2 separate regions of the Homo sapiens genome follow, and region 1 is linked to region 2. The links come from fine-mapping of genetic effects on gene expression. Tissue or cell type: cerebellar hemisphere. Region 2 holds a variant in brackets; the other region holds the start of a gene. All regions are shown on one strand. Distances are between the middles of the regions.

Evidence for each region. PIP is the estimated chance that this variant, and not a neighbour inherited with it, causes the effect.
Region 1: it holds the start of YIPF2, and the variant in region 2 is fine-mapped to the expression of YIPF2 in cerebellar hemisphere (GTEx, PIP 0.96).

The regions. Positions count from the first base shown.
Region 1 is chr19:10,924,860-10,932,961 of GRCh38, forward strand. It overlaps YIPF2 (Yip1 domain family member 2), which reads right to left and starts at 3,780. Exons shown (of 10, transcript NM_001321439.2): 1 at 3,652-3,780; 2 at 3,521-3,581; 3 at 2,940-3,100; 4 at 2,771-2,857; 5 at 827-914. The coding sequence starts at 3,551. TIMM29 (translocase of inner mitochondrial membrane 29) reads left to right here and starts at 3,952. Exons shown (of 2, transcript NM_138358.4): 1 at 3,952-4,057; 2 at 4,155-5,395. The coding sequence starts at 3,964. The coding sequence ends at 4,843. RefSeq lists enhancers at 2,411-3,113, 3,114-3,814 and silencers at 4,028-4,307, 4,348-4,397.
Region 2 is chr19:10,525,903-10,534,004 of GRCh38, forward strand. No RefSeq gene overlaps it. Among named protein-coding and RNA genes, the nearest start is that of S1PR5, 13 kb to the left of the region's middle. The variant C/T (reference allele first, on the strand shown) is at 4,498.

The DNA of each region.
Region 1 (8,102 bases), 400 kb after region 2:
TGTGGCCGCCTCCACCCCAGCCTCCTGGCTTCCGCCCTCGCCACTCATGATGGCGAGAGGGACCCCGAAAACACTTAAAGATCCATTCTCGGCCAGATAACAGTGACTCACACCTGTAATTCCAGCACTTAGGAGGCCGAGGCGGGTGGATCACCTGAGGTCAGGAGTTTGAGACCAGCCTGGCTAACACGGTGAAACTCCGTCCCTAATAAAAATATAAAAATCAGCCGGGCATGGTGGCACGTGCCTGTAATCCCAGCCACTCAGGAGGCTGAAGCAGGAGAATCGCTTGAATGCGGGAGGGGAAGATTGCAGTGAGCTGAGATCACATCACTGCACTCCAGCCTGGGTGACAGAGTGAGACTCTGTCTCAAAAAAAAAAAAAAAAGATCTCTTCTTGCCACAGCATGGGAGGCTTGTGTGATCTGTCCCCTCGCCTGTGACCTCCCTGCAGCTCACTCGCTCCAGTGGTAATGCCGCCCTGCAGTTCATGCAAGTTCCTGCCATGAAGCTTACGTCGTTTCTGGAAGCCTCTTTTCCTAGGTCTCCCCCACCCCTCCTGTTGCCAACAAGGCTCATTCCCTCACCCTCCTCAGGGAGGCCTGCCCTGCTGCACCCTGCAGAACTGCAGGGCCACTCCTCCTGTCTGCTCTGCTGCTCTCTACCCGCCACCCTCTGCAGTCCTTCATGTCTCTGTCTCCCTGAACAGCAGGTAAGTCACACTGTCTGAGTGACTGATTTGTCCGCAGCTATACACTGGCATCTGCAACTCAGGCCACACTTGTTGAGTGATCCATCAAGGAACCAAATGCACAACCTCACTCACCATACAGATCCGGCCGATTCCGCAGATGGTGCCGCACAAAGTTGTGGCCAGGCCGGGGCAGCAGTGAGCCTTTGATCCGGTCCAGGACCTGGGGGCAAGGCCAAGGTCAAGGATGGAAGTCTGCCAGGAGCTTCTCCCTTGTCCTGAGAGGCTCCTTCCCTGCTGACCTCCACCCTTCTCTTTCCATGCCCCACCTGAAAGAACTCAGCCTTTCCCTCTCTTTTTTTTTTTTTTTTTTTTTGAGACAGAGTCTTGCTCTGTCGGCCAGGCTGGATGGAGTAGTGGCATGATCTCGGCTCACTGCAACCTCTGCCTCCCGAGCTCAAGCAATTCTCCTACCTCAGCCACCCGAGTAGCTGGGATTACAGGCGTGTGCCACCACGCCTGGCTAATAGTTGTATTTTTAATAGAGACGGGATTTCACCATGTTGGCCAGGCTGGTCTCGAACTCCTGACCTCAGGTAATCCACCCACCTCGGCCTCCCAAAGTACTGGGATTACAGGCGTGAGCCACCGTTCCCAGCCCCCTCTTTTTTTTCCCTCTTTTTTTTTTTGTTTTGAGACGGAGTCTCGCTCTGTCACCCAGGCTGGAGTGCAGTGGTGCCATCTCGGCTCACTGCAAGCTCCGCCTCCTGGGTTCACACCATTCTCCTGCCTCAGCCTCCCAAAGAGCAGGGACTACAGGCGCCCACCACCACCCCCGGCTAATTTTTTGTATTTTTAGTAGAGATGGGGTTTCACCGTGTTAGCCAGGATGGTCTCGATCTCCTGACCTCATGATCCTCCCACCTTGGCCTCCCAAAGTGCTGGGATTACAGGCGTGAGCCACCGCACCCGGCCTCAGCACCCCCTTTTTCTTTTTGAGACAGAGTCTCACTCTGTTCAGGCTGGAGTGCAGTGGCACGATCTTGGCTCACTACCACCTCCGCCTCCCAGGTTCAAGTGATTCTCGAGCCTCAGACTCCTGAGTAGCTGGGACTACAGGTGTGTGCCACCATGCCTGGCTAATTTTTGTATTTTTAGTAGAGATGGGGTTTCACCGCGTTGGCCAGGCTGGTCTCCAACTCCTGACCTCAAGTGATCCACCGCCTCGGCATCCCAAAGTGCTAGGATTACAGGCGCCGACCACTGCACTTGGCTAATTTTTCTATTTTATTTTATTTTTTATTTAATTTTATTTTATTTATCTTATTTTATTTTTGAGACAGAGTCTCATTCTTTTTGCCCAGGCTGGAGTGCACTGGCACGATCTTGGCTCACTGCAACCTCCGCCTGGCGGATTCAAGCGATTCTCCTGCCTCAGCCTCCAGAGTAGCTGGGATTACAGGCGCCCACCACAAAGCCCGGCTAATTTTGTTGTATTTTTAGTAGAGACGGGGTTTCACCATGTTTGGCCAGGCTGGTCTCAAACTCCTGACCTCAGGTGATCCACCCACCCAGGCCTCTCAAAGTGCTGGGATTACAGGCATGAGCCACCCCGCACCCGGCAGTTTTTGTATTTTTGGTAGAGACGGGGTTTCCCCATGTTAGCCAGGCTGGTCTTGAACTCCTCAGGTTATCTGCCCACCTCGGCCCCCTTAAGTGCTGGGATTACAGGCAGGAGCCACTGCGCCCAGTCCATCTTTGGTCTTCTGCATATGCTGTTCCCTGTGCCTGGAACATATACTCCTGCTTCCCTACCCTATTCCCCAGGGAAGCCTTCTGTCTCCTTTAGGTCTCAGCCAATTCCTCACCTCCCCCAGGAGGCCTTTCTCTAACCCACCAGATTGTGTGTGTCCCCTGTGTTCCCATAGTCCCGATCCATAACCAGTCCCACCATAACCCTTTGAGAGCACCACAGTTCGTTCACCAGCACCCACCATCACCAGCACCCTGCCCAGGGGAAGAGTGGCTGAACCCTGAGCATAACTCTGAGCCCCATCCCACCTGCCTCCCCAGCCTGACCTGTGAGGTGTCCACGTCAAAGAAGCTCTGATAGTAGCTGAAGGTCCAGAATCCCGGCTGCTGCTGCTGCTGCTGCTCCTGCAGGAGCTGCACATTGCGGGCATTCAGTGCCTGCCCGGAGAGCCTGGGTCAGCTGGGGGCTGCAAGGAGGCAGGACACAGGGACTCACCGCGGCCTTGTCACTCTCCTCCTCCACCTCATCCTCGGCTCCATAGCTGCCACCTGAGCCCACGGCCACAGCCACGTGCCCTTGTGGGGTCAGCTGATCGCTTCTGCTGGTGGTGGCTGCATCTGGGGTGTCAGCCAGAAGATTAGTGGCCTCCTCGAATTCTGTGGAGGAGGTATATGGGACACACGCACGTTTGAGGGGTGGAAAGAACTCGACTGGGCCCAAGCTAAACCGATGCTCATCTGGGGGCGGAGGCTCTGCTGAGCCATTGATCTCCCCCAAGGTGGGGCCCAACTTCCTCAGTTTGGAGGCATCCGGAGGACATCTGTTCCCTTCCTCCTAAAGTGGAACTGCAACTTAGGGTTGACGCTGGGATGGGGTCAGGGTCTGGGGACGAGAGGCTCGGGTTTGAGGTCTGAGTTCAGGGCGGGGGCGGGGTTCGAGTCAGAGATGGGTCTCACTCCTGGGTCAGGGTTCACAGCCGCCTAGGCTTCGGGGTAGAGAAATTGGAAGCCGTATCGGGGGGAGGTTCTGGCCCGGGGCGGGAGTGGGAGATCCGGCCACGTCGGGGCCGCACTCACCATGGAAGGTCAGCTCGTCGGCCGATGCCATGGTCGTTCAGGGGCGTCTCCGCATCCCTCGCTGAGGACAGAGACCGGTCAGGCACACTTCCCCCCCGCCCCCGAGCCGGTCCCTCGGCCCCCAGCCCTACCTGGCGACCAACTGCACCCACGGAGGCTTGAACTCGTCGTCCCGTCCCCACAGGTGCGCTCCGCCCCCCCTCACCTGAGGCCACCTGGGCCGGCGTGGCTGGGGCTCTCTGCGCCTGCGCGTCTCGCCTACCCGTCAGACTCCAACCGACTCAGACCTGACAGCAACATCCGGCGCCTGTCCTCTTTCTATCCTCTCCCGTTGGGAAGCCACTTCCGGTAAAGTTGGCGCTTGCGCAGAAGAGACTCCCGGGCTCTTAACGTCGGGTATCAGGAGTTTCTTCCCGGAGCAAGGACCCCCAAGACGGAAGAGGATGGCCGCGGCGGCTCTGAGGAGATTTTGGTCCCGGCGCCGCGCAGAGGCGGGCGACGCGGTAGTGGCGAAGCCGGGAGTGTGGGCGCGGCTGGGTGAGTAGCGGCGGAAGGCGGCAGGGTGGGTGGCCGCCGCGACAGGGTGGGTGGCCGCCGCGGCCGGATCACTCTTACCGCGCTCCTCTCCCCTCAGGGTCCTGGGCCCGCGCGCTGCTCCGGGACTACGCCGAGGCCTGCAGGGACGCTTCGGCGGAGGCTAGGGCCCGGCCGGGGCGCGCCGCTGTGTATGTGGGTCTGCTGGGCGGCGCGGCGGCCTGCTTCACGCTGGCGCCCAGCGAGGGTGCCTTCGAGGAGGCGCTGCTGGAGGCGTCGGGGACCCTCCTGCTGCTGGCGCCGGCCACCCGCAACCGCGAGTCCGAAGCCTTCGTGCAGAGGCTGCTCTGGCTGCGGGGCCGTGGCCGCCTGCGCTACGTCAACCTGGGGCTCTGCTCGCTGGTGTACGAGGCGCCCTTCGACGCCCAGGCCAGCCTCTACCAGGCGCGTTGCCGCTACCTGCAGCCCCGCTGGACCGACTTCCCCGGCCGGGTCCTGGACGTGGGCTTCGTGGGTCGCTGGTGGGTGCTGGGGGCCTGGATGCGCGACTGCGACATCAACGACGACGAATTCCTGCACCTGCCGGCGCATTTGCGGGTGGTCGGGCCCCAGCAGCTGCATTCCGAGACCAACGAGCGGCTCTTCGATGAGAAGTACAAGCCTGTCGTGCTCACCGACGATCAGGTGGACCAGGCGCTGTGGGAGGAGCAGGTCTTGCAGAAGGAGAAGAAGGACAGGCTCGCCCTGAGCCAGGCCCACTCGCTGGTGCAGGCGGAGGCCCCGAGATGAAACCCTGAGGCCCCCGAGTCCTGGCAAACTGCTTGCCTGGGGTGGTGCAGTTCTGAGTGTGCCTCACCTGCAGAACAGCTGAGACAGATGATGTGCAAAGTGTTTTCTCACTGGATTTGCACAAGTTTGGGGAGCCTTTCTGCCCCCCGTCTTTGTTCTTTATTAGCTGAAGCTAATTCAGAGCCACCTGGGTCCGGGAGTTGGGGACAGCAGAACGACTTGACACATGTTCATCACTGGCAGAGCTGGTCATGAGCCTTTTATATAAGCCTTTTTCATCGGGCCTCAGAGGCCCTCCTTAAGGAGGTACCACATTGGTCAGCTGACTTGCAAACTCTTCTAAGGCCACTTAGATTTTCTTTTTCAAGTTTGGGTTGTGGCCTGGCATGGTGATGTCTGTAATCCCAGCAGTTTGCAAACTGAGGCAAGAGAATCGCTTGAGGCCAGGAGTTTGAGGCCAGCTAGAGTGACATAGCAAGACTCCGATGCTACAAAAAAGAATAATAATAGTAATTAACTAAATAAAATTTGAGCTGAAATGTTTTTATTCTATGACCTATTCTCTCTCGTTTTTTTTTTTTTTTTTTTTGAGACAGGGTCTTGCTCTGTTTTGCCTGCTGGAGTGCAGTGGTGCAATCTCGGCTCACTGCAACCTCTGCCTCCCAGGTTCAAGTGATTCTCCTGCCTCAGCCTCCTCAGTAGCTGGGATTACAGGCCTGTGCCAACATGCCTGGCAAATTGTTGTATTTTTAATAGAGATGGGGTTTCACCATATTGGCCAGGCTGGTCTTGAACTCCTGACCTCAGGTGATCCACCTGCCTCGCATTTCCAAAGTGCTGGGATTATAGGAGTGAACCACCACACCTGGCCTTTCATTTTGATAAGTAACATTTTTGCCATTCCCAGCTCTTTGGAAGGCTGAGGTAGGAGGATTGCTTGAGATCAGGAGTTCAAGACCAGTTTAGGTAAAATAGTGAGAGCTTTCTCAAAAACTAAAATATTTGGAAGGGTAAAGCAGGCAAATCATTTGAGCTTAGGAGTTCAACACCAGCCTGGGCAATATGGCAAAACCCCGTCTCTACAAAAAGTACAAAAATTTACCAAAGGTGTTGAATGAGAATTGAAAATATGTATACATAGAAAAATTAGCCAGACATGTTGGACCATGTCTGTAGTCCCAGCTATTCAGGAAGGCTGAGATGGGAGGATCACCTGAGCCTGGGAGTTCAACGCTGCAGTGAGCCACGATCGTGCCACTGCACTCCATCTTGGACAACAGAGTGAGACTGTCTCAAAAAGTAAAATAAGTGGATGGGCCCGGTGGCTCAAGCCTGTAATCCCAGCACTTTGGGAGGCCGAGGCAGGTGGATCACGACGTCAGGAGATGGAGACCATCCTAGCTAACACGGTGAAACCCCATCTCTACTAAAAATTCAAAAAAATTGGCCGGGCGCGGTGGCTCACGCCTGTAATCCCAGCACTTTGGGAGGCCCAGTCAGGTGGATCACGAGGTCAGGAGATCGAGACCATCCTGGCTAACATGGTGAAACCCCGTCTCTACTAAAAATACAAAAAATTACCGGGGCGTGGTGGCGGGCACCTATAGTCCCAGCTACTCAGGAGGCTGAGGCAGGAGAATGGCATGAACCTGGGAGGCGGAGCTTGCAGTGAGCCGAGATTGCGCCACTGCACTCCAGCCTGGGCGACAGAACAAGACTCCGTCTCAAAAAAAAAAAAAAAAAAAAAATAGCTGGGCGTGGTGGCAGGCATCTGTAGTCCCAGCTACTCAGGAGGCTGAGGCAGGAGAATAGCGTGAACCCGGGAGGTGGAGCTTGCAGCAAGCAGAGATTGCACCACTGCACTCCAGCCTGGGCAACATAGTGAGACTCCAGCTCAAAAAAATAAATAAATAAGTAACATTTTTGTTTTGATTTTTTTAAGTTTTTTTTTGAGACAGAGTTTCGCTCTTGTTGCCCAGGCTGGAGTGCAGTGGCACTCGCCCCAACCACCGCCTCCTGGGTTCAAGCGTTTCTCCTGTCTCAGCCTCCCAAGTAGCTGGGATTACAGGCGCATGCCACCACGCCCGGCTAATTTTTGTATTTTTTAGTAGAGATGAGATTTCATCATGTTGGTCAGGCTGGCCTCAAACTCCTGACCTCAGGTGATCCGCCTGCCTCAGCCTCCCAAAGTGCTGGGATTGCAGACGTGAGCCACCGTGCCCGGCCCTCGTTCCCTATTAAAAATACAAAACCAGGCAATTGACAGTGTCATGACTATTGGGATGTTACAGGGAAGTTTTTTGTAAAACAACCTGTTTACCAGATGAGCATTGTAAGTTACTGGAGGTGGCTTGGAAGGATAAAGCATTTTCTGGTCTGGAAATCTATATGGAATCATAGATTCTGGTTATGTTGTACTTCAGTAACCCTGAAACAGAATTCTATGAAAAGAAGTAAGTTAGTGTACACAGCTGGTACTTAGCTAGGTTATGGTAAATTGTATTTTTGTTGTTGTTGTTGTTGTTGAGACAGAGTCTCACTCTGACACCCAGGCTGGAGTGCAGTGGCACGATTTCGGCTCACTGCAACCTCTGCCTCCCAGGTTCAAGTGATTCTCTTGCCTCAGCCTCCTGGGTAGCTGGGATTACAGGCATATGCCATGATGCCCAGCTAGTTTTTGTATTTTTAGTAGAGATGGGGTTTCACCATGTTGGCCAAGCTGGTCTCAAACTCCTGACCTCAAGTGATCCTCCCACCTCGGCCTCCCAAAGTGCTGGGATTATAGGTGTGAGCCACTGCGCCCGGCCAATATTTTTTTTTTTTTTTTTTTTTTTTTGAGACAGAGTTTCACTCTATTGCCTAGGCTGGAGTACAGTGGCATGATCTCGGCTCACTGCAGCCTCTGCCACCTGGGTTCAAGCGATTCTCCTGCCTCAGCCTCCCAAGTAGCTGGGATTACAGGCATCTGGCACTGCGTCCGGCTAATTGTTGTATTTTTAGTAGAGACGGGATTTCACTATCTTGGCCAGGCTGGTCTTGAACTCTTTGTGATCCACCTGCCTTGGCCTCCCAAAGTGCTGGGATAATAGGCGTGAGCCACCACACCCGGCCTCAATACTTTTTATTTTTTTTAAGTGTAATTTATGGCCGGCGCAGTGGCTCACACCTGTAACTACAACACTTTGGGAGGCCAAGGTGGGAGGATCGCTTGAGTCCAGGAGTTCGAGACCAGCCTAGGCGACATGGTGAAATCCTGTCT
Region 2 (8,102 bases):
TTAGCTTCTTTCACTTAGTGATAGGCAGTTAAGCTTCCGCCATGTCTTTTCAAGGCTTGATAGCTGATTTATTTTATTTTATGTTTTTTTACATACATATATATATACATATACATATACATATACATATACATATACACATATACATATACATATACATATACATATACATATATATATATACATATACATATACATATATATATACATATACATATACATATATATATACACACACATATATATATATATATATTTGAAACGGAGTCTCACTCTGTTGCCCAGGCTGGAGTGCAGTGGTGTGATCTCGGCTCACTGCAAGCTCCGTCTCCCGGGTTCACTCCATTCTCCTGCCTCAGCCTCCTGAGTAGCTGGGACTACAGGCACCCGCCACCACACCCAGCTGATTTTTCGTATTTTTAGTAGAGATGGGGTTTCACCGTGTTAGCCAGGATGGTCTCGATCTGCTGACCTCATGATCTGCCCACCTCGGCCTCCCAAAGTGTTGGGATTACAGGCACGAGCCACCGCGCCCAGCCTTTTTTTGTGTTTTTAGTAGAGACTGGGTTTCGCCATCTTGTCCAGGCTGGTCTTGAACTCCTGACCTGGTGATCCACCTGCCTCAGTCTCCCAAAGTGCTGGGATTACAGGCGTGAGCCAGAGCGCCCTGCTATTATTATTAATTTTTAGAGACAGGGCCTTGCCTTGGCGACCAGGCTGGAGTACAGCAGTGTGATCCTAGCTCACTACAGCCTCCAATTCCTGGGCTCAAGCAATCTTCCTTCCTCAGCCCCCTGAGTAGTTGGGACTACTCCTTATGCTTGGCCAGGCACAGCGGCTCATGCCTGTAATCCCACCACTTTGGGAAGCCAGGTGAGAGGATCACTGGAGCCCAGGAATTGGAGACTAGCCTGGGCAACATAGTGGGACCTCATTTCTACAAAAATATTAAAGAATTAGCCAAGTGTGGTGGGGTGCACCTGTGGACCCAGTTACTCAGGGGGATAAGGTGGGAGAATTGCTTGAGCCCAGGAGGTAGAGATTGCAGTGAGCCAAGATCATACCACTGTACTCCAGAGTGGCTGACTGAACAAGACCATGTCTCAAAATAAATAAATAAACAAACAAACAAACGAAAAAATAAACTCCATACTCATTTAGCAATCACTCCCATTCCCCCGCCTCCCAACCCATGGCAAGCGCGAATCTGCTTTCTGTGTCTATGGATTTGCCTTTTTTTTTTTTTTTTTGAGACAGAGTCTTACTCTGTCCCCCAGGCTGGAGTGCAGTGGTGTGATCTTGGCTCACTGCAACCTCCGCTTCCCAGGTTCAAGCAATTCTCCTGCCCCAGCCTCCCGAGTAGCTGGGATTACAGGCACGCGCCACCATGCGTGGCTAATTTTTGTATTTTTAGTGAAGGTGGGGTTTCACCAAGTTGGCCAGGCTGGTCTCCAAGGCCTGGCCTCAAGTGATCTGCCCGCCTCAGCCTTCCAAAGTACTGGGATGACAGGGGTGAACCACTGAGCCCCGCCAAGGATTTGCCTATTTTGGACATTTTATATCAGTGGAATCATATAATTTATTGTATTCTGTGACTAGCTTCTTGCACTAAGCATAATGATTGAAGGTCAACTCACATTTTAGAATGAATCGGTACTTCATTCCTTTTTCTTTTTTTTTTTTTTTTTTGAGATGGAGTCTCGCTCTTGTTGCCCAGGCTGGAGTGCAGTGGCACGGTGGGATCTCAGCTCACTGCAACCTCTGCCTCCTGGCTTCAGGTGATTCTCCCTGCCCCGGTCTCCCAAGTAGCTGGGACTATAGGCACGCAGCACCACACCCAGCTAATTTTTGTATTTTTAGTTGAGACTGGGTTTCACCATGTTGGTCAGGATGGTCTCAAACTCCTGACCTGATCCACCCGTCTTGGCCTCCCAAAGTGCTGGGATTACAGGCATGAGCCACTGCGTCTGGCCTTTTTTTTTTTTTTTGAAATAGAGATGGGGTCTTGCTATGTTGTCCTGATCTCATGGGCCCAAGTGATTCTCCCACCTCGGCCTCCCAAAGTGCTGGGATTACAGGCATGAACCATCGTGCCCAGCCCAACTTAATTCCTTTTTATGGCTGAGTAATATTCCATTGCATGGACAAATATAGGACATTTTAATTTTCTATTCATCAGCTGATGGACATTTGAGTTTTCTCTACTTTTTACCTGGCAAGAATAATGCTGCTATGAACATTTCCATACGTGCATTTTATATGTTTGTATGTTTTCTTATCTGTTGAATATATACCTAGGCATGCAATTGTTGGCTCATATTAGAACCTGAGGAATTGTTTTCCAAAGCAAACAACTAGACTCTTTTCTTTTCTTTTTTATTTCCTTTCCTTTCCTTTCTTTTCCTTTCCTTTCCTTTCCCTTTCCTTCCTTCCTTCCTTCCTCTCTCTCTCTTTTTTTTTTGAGACAGGGTCTCATTCTGTTGCACAGATTGGAGTGCAGTGTTGTTGTTATCATGGCTCACTGTAACTCCAAACTCCTCGGTTTGAGTGATCCTCCCACCTCAGCCTCCCGAGTAGCTGGAACTACAGGCATGTGCCACCACACCTGGCTAATTTTTTTTTTTTTTGAGACGGAGTCTCGCTCTGTTACCCAGGCTGGAGTGCAGTGGCATGATCTCGGCTCACTGCAAGCTCCACCTCCCGAGTTCACGCCATTCTGCTGCCTCAGCCTCCCGAGTAGCTGGGACTACAGGCGCCTGCCACCACGCCTGGCTAATTTTTTTGTACTTTTTAGTAGAGATGGGGTTTCACCGTGTTAGCCAGTATGGTCTCAATCTCCTGACCTTGTGATTCGCCCACCTAGGCCTCCCAAAGTGCTGGGATTACAGGCGTGAGCCACCGCGCCCGGCCTACACCTGGCTAATTTTTTTGTATTTTTTGTAGAGACAAGGTTTTGCCATGTTGGCCAGGCTGGTCTCGAACACCTGGGCTCAGGTGATCCACCTTCCCCAGGCTCCCAAAGTGCTGAGATTGTAGGCATGAACCACTGCACCCAGCCTAGACCATTTTCTAAAGCAATGGCACCACTGGCCAGGCATAGTGGCCCATGCCTATAACCTAGAACTTTCCGAGGCTGGTGTGGGAGGATCATTTGCCCCCAGGAGTTCTAGAACAGCCTGAGCAACATAACGAGACTCCCATCTCTACAAAAAATAAAAAGTTAGCCATGGTAATGTGCACCTGTAGTCACAGCTACTCAGGAAGCTGATGTGGAAGAATCACTTAAACCCAGGAGTTCCAGGTTACAGCGAGCCATGATCACACCACTGCACTCCAGTCTGTGCAACAAAATGAGACCTTGTCCCTAAAAAAAACACAAAAGAAAAAGAAGGAAGAAATGCATTTAAAAAAATAATAATAAGACCGGGAGTGGTGGCTCACGCCTATAATCCTAGCATTTTGGGAGCCAGAGGCGGGCGGATCACCTGAGGTTGGGAGCTCAAGACCAGCCTGACCAACATGGAGAAACCCTATCTCTACTAAAAATACAAAATTAGCCAGGTGTGGTGGTGCATGCCAGTAATCCCAGCTACTTGGGAGGCTGAGGCAGGAGAATCGCTTGAACCCAGGAGGTGGAGGTTGTGGTGAGCCAAGACCATGCCATTGCACTCCAGCCTGGGCAATAAGAGTGAAAGTCTGTCTCAAAATAATAATAATAATAATAATAATAATAATAAAACAATGACAATATTTTACCTTCCCACCGGCAATGTATAAGGATTACAATGTCTCTGAATCTTCAACAACACTCGTTAATTTCTTCTTTGTTTGTTTTTGTTGTTGTTTGTTTTTTGTTTTTTGTTTTTTTGAGACGGAGTTTCACTCTGTCACCCAGGCTGGGGTGCAGTGGCGCGATATCGGCTCGCTGAAACCTCCACTTCCTAGGTTCAAGTGATTTTCCTGCCTCAGTCTCCCGAGTAGCTAGGATTACAGGCGCACGCCACCATGCCCAGCTACTTTTTGTATTTTTAGTAGAGATGGGGTTTTGCCATGTAGGCCAGGCTGGTCTCGAACTCCTGACCTCAGGTGATCTGCCTGCCTCAGCGTCCCAAAGTGCTGGGATTAGAGATATGAGCCACTGCCCCCAGACCTATTTTCTGATTTTTATTGTGGCCATACTAGAAGACGTGAAGTGGTGTCTAATTGTGGTTTGGATAGTTATTACTAGCTGGGTGTGGTGGCTCACATCTGTAATCCCAGCACTTTGGGAGGCACAGGGGGGAGAATTGCTTGAAGCCAGGAGTTCAAGACTAGCCTGGGCAACAAAGTGAGACCTCATTTCTAAAAAGAAAAAGAAAACATTAGCCAGGCCTGGTGGTGTAGTGGTGGGCCTCTGCAGTCTCAGCTACTCATAAGGCTGAGGCAGGGAGGATCGCTTGAGCCCAGGAGTTCAAGGCTGCGGTGAGCCATGTTCACGTTACTGCATTCCAGCATGGG[C/T]GACAGAGCAAGATCCTATCTAAAAAAAAATAGAAACAGGCTGGGCATGGTGGCTCATGCCTGTAATCCCAGCACTTTGGGAGGCCGAGGCAGGTGGATCACGAGGTCAGGAGATCAAGACCATCCTGGCTAACACGGTGAAAACCTGTCTCTACTAAAAATACAAAAAATTAGCCGGGTGCAGTGGCGGGCGCCTGTCGTCCCAGCTACTCCGGAGCTGAGGCAGGAGAATGGTGTGAACCCGGGAGGCGGAGCTTGCAGTGAGCGGAGATCACCCCACTGCACTCCAGCCTGGGTGACAGAGCGAGACTCTGTCTCAAAAAAAAAAAAAAAAAATTAGAAACAGGCCGGGCACAGTGGCTCATACCTGTAATCCCAACAATTTGGGAGGCCAAGGTGGGTGGATCACCTGAGGTGAGGAGTTCAAGACCAGCCTGGCCAACATGGTGAAACCCTGTCTCTACTAAAAATACAAAATTAGCTGGGCGTGGTGGCACATGCTGTAATCCTAGATACTTTGGAGGCTGAGGCAAGAGAATCACTTGAACCCGGGAGACAGAGGTTGCAGTGAGCCGAGATCACGCCACTGCACTCCAGCCTGGGCGACAAGAGCGAAACTCCGTCTCTATTGATCACGACACTCACAGTGCAGTCCATCCTTCTTTTCTTTCTTTTTTTTTGGGGGGGGCTGTGGGGGTTAAGGTCTCACTCTGTCACCCAGGCTAGAGTGCAGTGGAACACAGTTTATTGCAGCCTTGACCTTCTGGGCTCGAATGATCCTCTTCCGTTAGCCTCCCAAGTAGCTGGGATCACAGGCATGCAACACCATGGCCAGCTAATTTTTTCATTTTTAGTTTTTGTAGAAATGGGGTCTCCACATGTTACCCAGGCTGGTCTGGATCTCCTGGGCTCAAGTAATTTACCCACCTTGGCCTACCAAAGTGTTGGGATTATAGGCATGAGCTCACTGTTTTACCCAAGCTGGTCTTGAACTCCTGGCTTCAAGGGATCCTCCAACCTCGCCCTCCCAGAATGTTGGGATTACAGGTGTGAGCTAACATGCCTGGCAAACAGCATACATTCTTTTTATTGCTTTAATAAAAATGTAATTTTGTTTCTCTTTGAAGGATACTGTTGAGAAGTGTAATTACTATGATGTATAATTTGTCCACGTAGGGGTACTTGCTTTTTTTTTCTTTACTTGACTCTTTGTTTTTTTTGAGGCAGAGTTTCACTCTTTTGCCCAGGCTGAAGTGCAGTGGCGCAATCTTGCCTCACTGCAACCTCCTCCTCCTGGGCTCAAGTGATCCTCCTGCCTCGGCCTCCCGAGTAGCTGGGACTACAGGCATCTGCCACCAGGCCAGCCTAATTTTCTTTTCTTTCTTTCTTTTTTTTTTTTTGAGACAGATTCTTGCTCTGTCACCCAGGCTGGGTGCAGTGGCACAATCTAGGCTCACTGCAACCCCTGCCTCCTGGATTCAAGCCATTCTCCTGCCTCAGCCTCCCCAGTAGCTGGGATTACAGGCGTGTACTGCCACGCCTGGCTAATTTTTGTATTTTTAGCAGAGATGGGGTTTCACCATATTGGCCAGGCTGGTCTCGAACTCCTGACCTCGTGATCCGCCCACCTTGGCCTCCCAAAGTGCTGGGATTACAGATGTGGGCCACTGCACCGGGCCCTAATTTTGTATTTTCAGTAGAGAACAGGTTTCACCATGTTGGCCAGGCTGGTCTCAAACTCTTGACTTCAAGTGATCTGCCTGCCTTGGCCTCCCAAAGTGCTGGGATTACAGGCATGAGCCACTGCACCCAGCCTCCAGTGTCTGGGAATGTGCCGTTTGTCTTACCAGGAATACATTTCCTTCCCCCCCTTTTTTTTTTTTGCTAACTCCTACTCATCCATTAGATTCCATGATAGACATTTCTAGCATAGACAACAATCCATTGAATGAAAAACTGCCATTTGCAGATAGCTGGCTCTCCTGACTAATTCTGACCATTGAAGTGGGAGTGAGGTGGCATACATTATTCTATATGTCTTTCAGTTCTGAACAGAGGCATCCAAAAACTTATGCATGGCTCTCCTGTCTGCCTCTTGCTCCTCTGTGATAACTGAAGCAGAGAGTTTCAGATAGTGCAGCCACAAGATGACGGGAGACTTGTCATCCTGGGCTCCTGAATGACTGTGTGGAGCTGAGCCCCTGCCAGTCCATATAGGATGAATAGCCTGAGGGAGAAATCAACTTTGATTGTGTTAAACCACTGAGCTTTGGGCTGGTTTGTTACTGCAGCAAATCTTGACCTACTCTGACTAATACAGAACCCAACTTAAATGTGGCTTCCCCAGAGAAGTCCTCCTGGATCACAGCCCCCAGAATCAGTTTCTTCCCCTTTTGTAAGCTTGTATGTTCTTACTTGATCATTACTGCAAACATAACTGTATAATTATTTGTGTAATGAGTTCATCATCTCTCTGCTCCACCCCATCTCCAAAACCCCAAGGGGAGACAACAGTGTGGATTTTCCATTGCTGCAGCCTGGACTCAAAATAGTGTCTGATGCATAGTAGGTACCCTGGATACATTTGTTGAATGAAAGAGTTTTGTGGCAGGGCGCGGTGGCTCATGCCTGTAATCCCAGAACTTTGGGAGGCCGAGGCAGGCTGATCACGAGGTCAGGAGTTCGAGACCAGCCTGGCCAATATGGTGAAACCCTGTCTCTACTAAAAATACAAAGTTAGCTGGGCATGGTGGCACGTGCCTGTAGTCCCAGCTACTCGGGAGGCTGAGGCAGGAGAATCGCTTGATCCCGGGAGATGGAGGTTGCAGTGAGCCGAGATCATGCAACTGCACTCCAGCCTGGGCAACAGAGTGAGACTCCGTCTCAAAAAAAAAAAAAAAAAAGAAAAGAAAAGAGAGAGAGTTTTTCATCCTTTCAGCCAAAGGCAGCAAGACCAGGCACAGTGGCTCATGCCTGTAATCCCAGCACTTTGGGAGGCCAAGGCGGGCCGATCTTCTGAGGTCAGGAGTTCAAGACCAGCCTGGCCAACATGGTGAAACCCCGTCTCTACTAATAGTAAAAAAATTAGCCTGGGCATGGTGGTGCAAGCCTGTAATCCCAGCTACTCAGGAGGCTGAGGCAGGGGAATCACTTGAACCCTGGAGGTGGAGGTCGCAGTGAGCCAAGATTGCGCCACTGTACTCTGGCCTAGGCAACAGTGAGACTCTGTCTCAAAAAAAAAAAAAAAGGCAGCAATTAGCAGGACTCTTTTATAGAACATCATTCATGTAACCCACAGGGTAATGGATGCATGAGAGGCGGGACTGGATGGCCCCAAGAAACAGGGGAAGTTTGACAAGGAACATGATCTATTGTGAGAAAGTACCTATCCACATAGTTAACGTTTTCTTCAAGACTGTAATTTGTTCCAACAACTGCTCTGCCTGGGAGGGATTTCCGGGCATGATTTATTTCACTAAGAGGCATGGGAACTGGGTGGAGATGCATGGAAACATTTTTTGAATAGTTGAGAGGCCCAGGATAAAATTCATGCACAGACGCCACAATGCAGTCAGTAGAAGGAAATGTTATCTTATTGGGTTCTA